Linked DNA regions of Homo sapiens. The protein of the gene in region 1 purifies or fractionates together with the protein of each later gene. This does not show direct contact. Each region holds a gene or a part of one and is shown in the gene's direction. Other genes may lie near its edges. The genes, in order: OGFR and SHTN1.

Region 1 (3,642 bases):
CGCCTTGCAAACATGGCCATAGTGCCAGCCTCGTGATGCACACGTGTGGGGTCCGTGATACCGCCCACACAGCACCCCACCCCCATGCCAGCCCTGTCTCCTGCAGGTTGTCCTCAGCCATTACCCTCCACACCCCTGAATCACGGAAACCCCTGTGCTGCCTTCAGGGTGCTGAGGAGGGGACCTGCCAGGCCTGGCCTGGCTGGCGAAATGGGGAAGGGGGGTCCCTGGGGCTTGGAGGCAGCTGCTGTCCTCTGAATGGCCCCCACCTGCAGAGTGAGGAGCCAGGCGGGCTCTTGGGGTATTGGGCCAGCCTGGAGGTTTGCAGATGCGCCTCCCCGAAAGACACGGAGGGCCCCAGGGCAGCTTGTGTCTGATGGATCCCTGCTGTCCCCTTTCTCTGGCTCTTCAGGATCTGGTGGAACGAGACTGCAATGGGGACACGCCAAACCTGAGTTTCTACAGAAATGAGATCCGCTTCCTGCCCAACGGTAGGTGCCTCACAACCACTGGCAGCCGGCGCTTCCATCCTTGCCTGGCAGGGGTGGTCCACTGGGCCCTGGTTTGGGATGTACCCGGCGATTACCAGGGCCACGGCTTTCAAATAGCCCCACAGTGCCCCCTGGAGGCGGCCAGAGGGACTCCAGGATCCCCGGCTTGGGATCTCCGCAGTGGTGTTTGGGTCGGGGTGGGCTATCTCTGTAAAGAGCCAGAGACTGAATATCTGCAGCTTTTCAGGCCACACAGTCTCTATCAAAACTACTGAACTCCTGCACGACCTCATGAAAGCCACATGTAAACCAACGAGCTAAGGATAGCTTTTATATTTTTAAATGGTTGCAAAAAATTAAAGTAGAGGCCGGGCCTGGTGGCTCACGCTTGTAATCCCAGCACTTTGGGAGGCCAAGGCGGGTGGATCACAAAGTCATGAGTTCGAGACCAGCCTGGCCAATATGGTGAAACCCTGTCTCTACTAAAAATACAAAAAAAATTAGCCAGGTGTGGTAGCGTGCGCCTGTAGTCCCAGCTACTCAGGAGGCTGAGGCAGGAGAATCGCTTGAACTTGGGAGGTGGAGGTTGCAGTGAGCCGAGATCTCGCCACTGCCCTCCAGCCTGGGCAACAGAATGAGACTCTGTCTCAAAAAAAAAAAAAAAAAAAAAAAAAAAAAGAACAGTGTTCTATTACTTTGATATTATAAGAAATTAAAATTTCAGTGTCAATAAAGCTTCACGGGCACGTGCCCACACCTGTTTATGCACGTGCCGGGCTGCAACGTGAAACAGAGACTGGGTGGCTGCACAAAACACTGTCAGGCCCCCATCTCAGGAGACTGTGCCTGCCACATCATGGGACTGGGTTCAGCTGGGGGCTGTGTTTGAGGACAGATTTCTGTGGCTGACGGGCCACGCTTTTGCAGGAGGCACTGAGGCCCCCTCCTGTACAGACAGGTCCTGGTCGAGGACCAGTGGTTCCCCCAGAGGGACCTTCCGGGCTCTCAGTGGGGTTTGCCGCCAGCCAGCAACAAGGGTCCAGGTCACAGATGGCAGCAGGGCAAGGGCTGTGCATCGGAGGAGGGATGGGCAGCCCCACTGAGCCTAGCACCCTGAAGAGCCTCAGGAGATGAGGGCGAGGAATAGCTTGGGGAAGCTGCTGGCAGCACTCTCTCCTTATGTCCCCCACCCACACCCCGTCCTCCTGAGCACGGGCAGGGTGGCTGCCACAGCTGACTTGTCCCCATGGGGCTCCCAGGCTGTTTCATTGAGGACATTCTTCAGAACTGGACGGACAACTATGACCTCCTTGAGGACAATCACTCCTACATCCAGTGGTGAGTTGGGGAGGATGGGGGGATGGGGGGTTGGCGAGGCCACAGGGGGAGGGCCCTCCCAGGCAGGAGCCCTCCCGACGCTGCTTCCTGGCACGGACTGAGCACTCCCTGCCCTTCCTGGAAGCTGGTGTCCACATTACACGGATGGACATTACTGGACATGCAAGGGCCGCTGAGGGAAGGCTCAGGTCTGTCCCCAATCTGTGGGCTCTTGGTGACCAGGGAGACAGGAAGGGCTGCACACAAGCTCCCTGAAACAGGAGAGGGGGCAGGCACTGCCTGCCAGAGGGGCAGCCTTAGTGCCAGGAGGCCTCAGTGAGCCTCAAGGGGCGGCCCCCGTCTCGGACTCAGCTGGGGCAGGGTCCTGGCGTAGTGCTGGGATGAGACTTGTGGCAGGCGTCTTGGGGACCCACAATGTGGCCCCGGAAACAGCATGCCCTGCTTTGGGGACAGCTCGCTGGGCGTCCACAGGGAGCCTCTGCTGGTGTGTGACGTGTCATGAGTGACAACACAAGAGAGGGAAGAGTGAGGAGTAGAAAGGAAGGCCCTGTCCGCCCGGGCTGGATGGCTGCAGGGCCCCTCGCTGCCTGAGTCACCTCCCCAGTCCTGCTGAGCATGCAGGCTGTGACTTACGCACCACACACCTCCTGTCCTGGGCCCTTGCACGCTCACCTGAGCTCTCCCACCCTCGCTCCTCCACCTAGCCACTCCCTCCTAGAGTTGAGCCTGGGAACCCAGAGGGGATTGGAACTGCCCCGGGCTACACAGCGAGCACCTGCCCAAGGTCTGGAAGCGGCTCTCCTAATCCCTTGCCTGAGCATCTCTTCTCCTGCAGGCTGTTTCCTCTGCGAGAACCAGGAGTGAACTGGCATGCCAAGCCCCTCACGCTCAGGGAGGTCGAGGTGAGCCAGGCCTTGGCTGTGACTGGAGGGGAAGATGGGGAGGCCTGGGCAAGCCACGCCGCTGCAGAGACGGGGTCGCCTCTGGCAGTAGGCATTTGGTGCCCCCTCAGGGGTCCCTTGGAAGGCAGAAGGGCCGAAAGAGCCTCCAGTATGATGACCTTCCCTCCCCAGTGGTCCTCACCCCACCAGGCATCTAGAGAAACTCAATTTCCGAGGCTGTTTGTCCCCATGCGGGAGTCTGGGGCTGAGCCCCTGAGAGACCCGGAGTGGCGGGACCTGCCTTTCTCACCACTGGTTTAGGCTGGAGTGGGGTCACCCAAGTGTGGAAGCTGCCCCTGAGGGATGCAGGGACTTAGAGAGCCGAGGGGCCCCTCCTGGCACTTTCCCATGGCCAGCGACTTCCTCTCAGGGGAGGGCGGCAGCCTCAGGCCCTGGTGAGAGCTCGGAGCAGCTCAGAGGAGAGATGGAGGCATGAGTGTGTCTCTTGTCACTTTACCCTAAAAGTCTGAGTCCAGGCTAGGTGCCGTGGCTCACGTTTGTAATCCCAGCACTTTGAGAGGCTGAGGCGGGTGGATCACCTGAGGTCAGGAGTTTGAGACCAGCCTGGCCAACGTGACAAAACCCCGTTTCTACTAAAAATAGAAAAAAATTAGCCAGGTGTGGTGGCAGGCAACTGTAATCCCAGCTACTCGGGAGGCAGAGGTTGCAGTGACTTGAGGTCACACCATTGCACTCCAGCCTGGGCAACAGAGCAAGACTCTGTCTCTAAATAAATGTCTGTCTGTCTGTCTGTCTAGTCCAGGCCTCTGAGTGAGTCGGGACCCACGGCCACCCCCACACTCAGGAACCGGGGCTTCAGGGATGGTGCCTGAGCTCTCCAAGGGGGTCTTTTCCAGGTGTTTAAAAGCTCC
Region 2 (4,397 bases), on another chromosome or scaffold:
CTCCCGGGTTCACGCCATTCTCCTGCCTCAGCTTCCCGAGTAGGTGGGACTACAGGCGCCTGCCACCACGCCCGGCTAATTTTTTGTATTTTTAGTAGAGACGGGGTTTCACCGTGTTAGCCAGGATGGTCTCGATCTCCTGACCTCGTGATCTGCCCGCCTTGGCCTCCCAAAGTGCTGGGATTACAGGCGTGAGCCACTGTGCCCGGCCACAGACCTGTAATCTTTATTAAAAACAAAAAAACAAAAAAAAAACAAAAAAAAACTGCATTATAAATTCTGGACTTGGTGTTTTGTTAATCTTCCTCTATTAAATCCTTACAACTCTTCCTTGAGAGTAGGTATCACTATTCTTCCTATTCTTCAGATGAAGTTCAAAGATGCAGGAGACTTGACCAAAGGTTAGCTCGCAACTAGGGGTTGGGGAGAAGCACCTTTGAAACAATGCAGACCTGCCACTTCTCTCCTGGGCATGGTCTAACACAGACATGAGTTCAAATAGTTCAGAGGGCAGTGAACTGGGACAAACGCTTGGCTTAACTGCCAGCCTCTGCTGCCCGGGGGCTGCGTGACCTTCGGCATTCGGACTGCAGTGGCACCCTCTCTAAAGGGAAGGTCATCCCGCCACCAACCAGATGATCTGCAAGGGCCCTCCAGGCCCCACCATCCACGTGCAGCAGGGTCCACGTTCTGACCACCTGGCAAACCTGGTGCGATGGGGGAAAGCTAGCCAGGGCCCTCCTTCACTCACGGCATGGTCATTTAAGTAGCTGGGCGGCCTGATTCGATCCTTGTCTCCTCTTCAAGGTGCAAAATGTACCACCCTGGGCCCGCCCCTGTGGGCAGCTAGGTTTTGCAACCGCGCCCCCAGAGTCTACTGCGGGAAAACTAGGGAAGAAGCCCAGGCGTTCATGGCTCATTGCGTCCCGCTCTACCTCTGTGGTTCTTTGGGAGCGACCCCCGGGAAGCGTCCAAAGTGGAGTTCCCACACACGCTGCGAACCCACAGCCGGTTTTCTCTGAACTCGCGTCCCTGAGTCCGGGAGGTGGAGGCGGAGAAAAGGGTGCGGAGCGACCCCACGCAGGGCCGCCCCCCCTCCCACCAGCGCGTCCTGCCGCGCCGGCAGCCACAGGCTGGCATAGCGGCTGCCGACCCGCCCTCGTTCCTCCACCCCCTGAACGGGACTGCTGGGCCCGCCCCGCCCCGCCTGCAGGTGAAGCGGCCGCAGCCGCCGAGTAGGTGCGTGGGGATGATCTCACTCGCGCGCTCCGCGCCAGGAGGAGGAGGAGCGGGAGCGGATCCAACTTCCGGGTAGTGGAGCCGCAAGCCACCGGCATCTTGCTTTTTCTTCCCCCTCCTCCTGTGTGCCCCGCGCCGCTCCCTCTTTCCCTTTTATTCCCGGCCCCACCCGCCAAAATGAACAGCTCGGACGAAGAGAAGCAGCTGCAGCTCATTACCAGTCTGAAGGAGCAAGGTAGGCAGCACGCGGGCGCCAGGTGTGGGCAGCCGCGGCCCGTGGGCGGGGACGGCCCCAGGGCGCTGGGGCCAGGGCAGTTGGAAGCCGGGCGGGAGACGTGGCGGCCGCCGTGGTCACCGCAGTAGCTCCGTCACCCGCAGAGAAGCGTCCTCCGTGGCCGGCGCGCCTGGGAAAGCTCTGGACCGAGGATAACGCGGAGTGTCGGGGCTAGTCAGGCCCCGCAGCTCGAGACCCGCTGCCCGCTGGTTGCGTTTGCTGGCGATCGGGGGCTGGGGGAAGGGACGAGGATTCAGTGCGGACGAGGTTGCACAGTGCCACCTTCCTTGCCGGAGAAGCGGGTGGGGCAGGATATTTTGGCTGCTTTGGGCGGCTCAGCTAGCTTGGCCCCACCCTTACACATTTGTTGGCGCTGGGTGGCCTGTAGGGCTGTTTCACACCCTTCCCAGCTTTTCGTTTGGATTCGGTCTAGTTCCTCTTTCCTTGCCCAGCTGGGATTTTCAGGCCATAATTTTTTTTTTAATCACTTCTCAATTTTAGCAGTTTATTAGTCAGCAAGGTCAACATCCTGCCAGTGTTGAGCTTTCAGAATTAACAGGGTTGACGCTGGGCGAAGGAGAGCCAGGCCATGCGCACGCATTTCTGTACTGCTTGGTAACTGGGGATTATCCTTTAATAAAGACCTGCTTCAGTCAATCATTTTTTTCATCAGTTACCACACTTCTGAACCAAACCAGATCAACAACCAAATGCTAACCTATCACATTTAAACACTTATCATTATTACCCTGACCAAAGGGTGGTCTGCGAATGTGGGTCAAGACAGGGAGGAACCAGCCGGGTGCGGTGGCTCACGCCTGTAATCTCAGCAATTTGGGAGGCCGAGGCAGGTGGATCACCTAAGGTCAGGAGTTCGAGACCAGCCTAACCAACATGGAGAACCCCTATCTCTACTAAAAATACAAAATTAGCCGGGCGTGGTGGTGCATGCCTGTAATCCCAGCTACCCGGGAGGCTGAGGCAGGAGAATCGCCAGGAGGCGGAGGTTGCGGTGAGCCAAGATGGCGCCGTTGCACTCCAGCCTGGGCAACAAGAACGAAACTCCATCTCCAAAAAAAAATAATAATAATAAATAATAAAGAAATAAAGGGAGGAACCATACAGATTTAAAGGAAGTAAAAATGTGTAGGAACATGTACTTTTCTGAATGTCTTGCTGACAAGACCATGTAATGGAAGGATCCCTGCTCTGTGGCAAAACCTGGTATTTAGTTGCAGCTCTTTCACTTCTCTTGGCCCAGCTCACCTGCTCTGTGAACTTGGAGGAGTCTCTTTCCTTCCGTGGATCTTCTGGTCAATCAAGGCCGACCTGACTAAAGGCGAGGGTGAAACTGGAGGACTTTCTGAGGTCCTGTCCAGTACTCTTACCTGTTGTTGCGTAAAACCACAGACACCGTTGGGAAGTGCTCCCGGATTCCTCTGAAGCCACACTCTGGCAAACAAATTTCAACATTACTGTTTACTGTGTGACCCTGGGGAAATTATTTAACCTCTGAAATGGACATAACACATTCTTCTGTGATATCCAGCATCTAGAAAGTGCTGGATAAATGTTAGTCTCTTTGGCCTTCCCAGCACCTTTACCTGGCATCCTAGATTAGCCTGAGGTCATAAAGTCACAAGCATCAGTGAATTTAGTGGGTGGACAGAATGCCTTTATCTGAAGTTTCTCAAGTGTTTTAGCGAGGGACTGGATTCTACTGACTGGTATTTTATATTTAATACACCTTCGCCCAACCCAAAACATTAAAACTTGATTCATATTCTAGATTTGTGGAGCTTTCATTATAGGTAATATCTGTCAGTGGATATCAGATCTTCTTATGGTTGGTCAGTTTTCGAATAATGATAAACATAAAAAAATTTTCCCTTTCATTTCTTGTATAATCAAGGGTCGATTAACAATGTAGATAATCTGCAAATTGCTTATATTTGATTTCGGAACACATTCTCCATTCCTATGTTGGGTTTGAGGCCTGACAAAAAGGATTTCTATATTTGTGGCTCTTTCTCCTATTGCATTGTATTGGAAAATAAACAAATCCTTGGCATTGGTATTTTTAGAGGATATATTTCCTTGATTAAGTGCATATGAAAGGTAATAGAACAGTTAGATATTCAAAGTTGTGTTTCTTAAAAGGTACACTTTTGGGGATAGTGAGTCTAGTTACAAAGGTGTTGGGATTTTTTCAGCCCACAGTGTGATTTTTATACATTTCAAAACCAGGTAGTTTGCTTGTCATTGGATCACAGACTGTGGAAACAATTTACTTCAAAAGTGTTCAGTTACTGTTTGACCTGTAGAACTAATTGGGAAGCTAGGGATTTGGAAGAACAGGTAACTGGGTCTTTGAGCATTTAACAGTACATACTATGATCAATTTTGTAAGCTGATGGTTGCATGGTTTATTTTTGAAAATAGTAATTTTTACTACCTGTTACTACCTTTTTACTCACAATGTTAATATTCTGAGTGATAATTCCACTACCCCTATTTAGTGTGAGCAAGAAGAACCACTATTTATCAAATATGTTATTTTCCCTTAATAATGCTGAGTAAACATATTTATTCATTCCTTCAACAAATACTTATCAAGTACCACCATATGTCAGGTCCATGTGGTAGGCACTAGGGGTGTAAATAGTGAACTACACAGTCCTTGTCACCAAATTAATTTTCTAGAAGAGAAGACAGGTACTATTCAAGTTATCATATGAATAAATGTACAATTACTTTTTTATTCTAGGATAGATTCTTAGAAGAAATGGAATTGTTGGATTAGAGGGCACGGACATTTACTTTTGCTAGACATTGCAAAAGTGCCCTCCAAAATGATTATACCAGTTCAGATATCCTTCAGCAG

Evidence for each region.
Region 2: the proteins of OGFR (region 1) and SHTN1 fractionate together in Homo sapiens (co-fractionation; one large-scale study listed by BioGRID). This does not show direct contact.

What each region holds. Positions count from the first base shown.
Region 1 is NC_000020.11:62,807,835-62,811,476, forward strand, and holds part of OGFR (opioid growth factor receptor), read left to right. Parts: intron 1-412; coding exon 413-491; intron 492-1,750; coding exon 1,751-1,829; intron 1,830-2,664; coding exon 2,665-2,731; intron 2,732-3,627; coding exon 3,628-3,642. UniProt on the Homo sapiens protein: Receptor for opioid growth factor (OGF), also known as Met-enkephalin. Seems to be involved in growth regulation.
Region 2 is NC_000010.11:117,002,099-117,006,495, reverse strand, and holds the start of SHTN1 (shootin-1), read left to right. Parts: upstream 1-1,308; 5' UTR 1,309-1,416; coding exon 1,417-1,474; intron 1,475-4,397. UniProt on the Homo sapiens protein: Involved in the generation of internal asymmetric signals required for neuronal polarization and neurite outgrowth.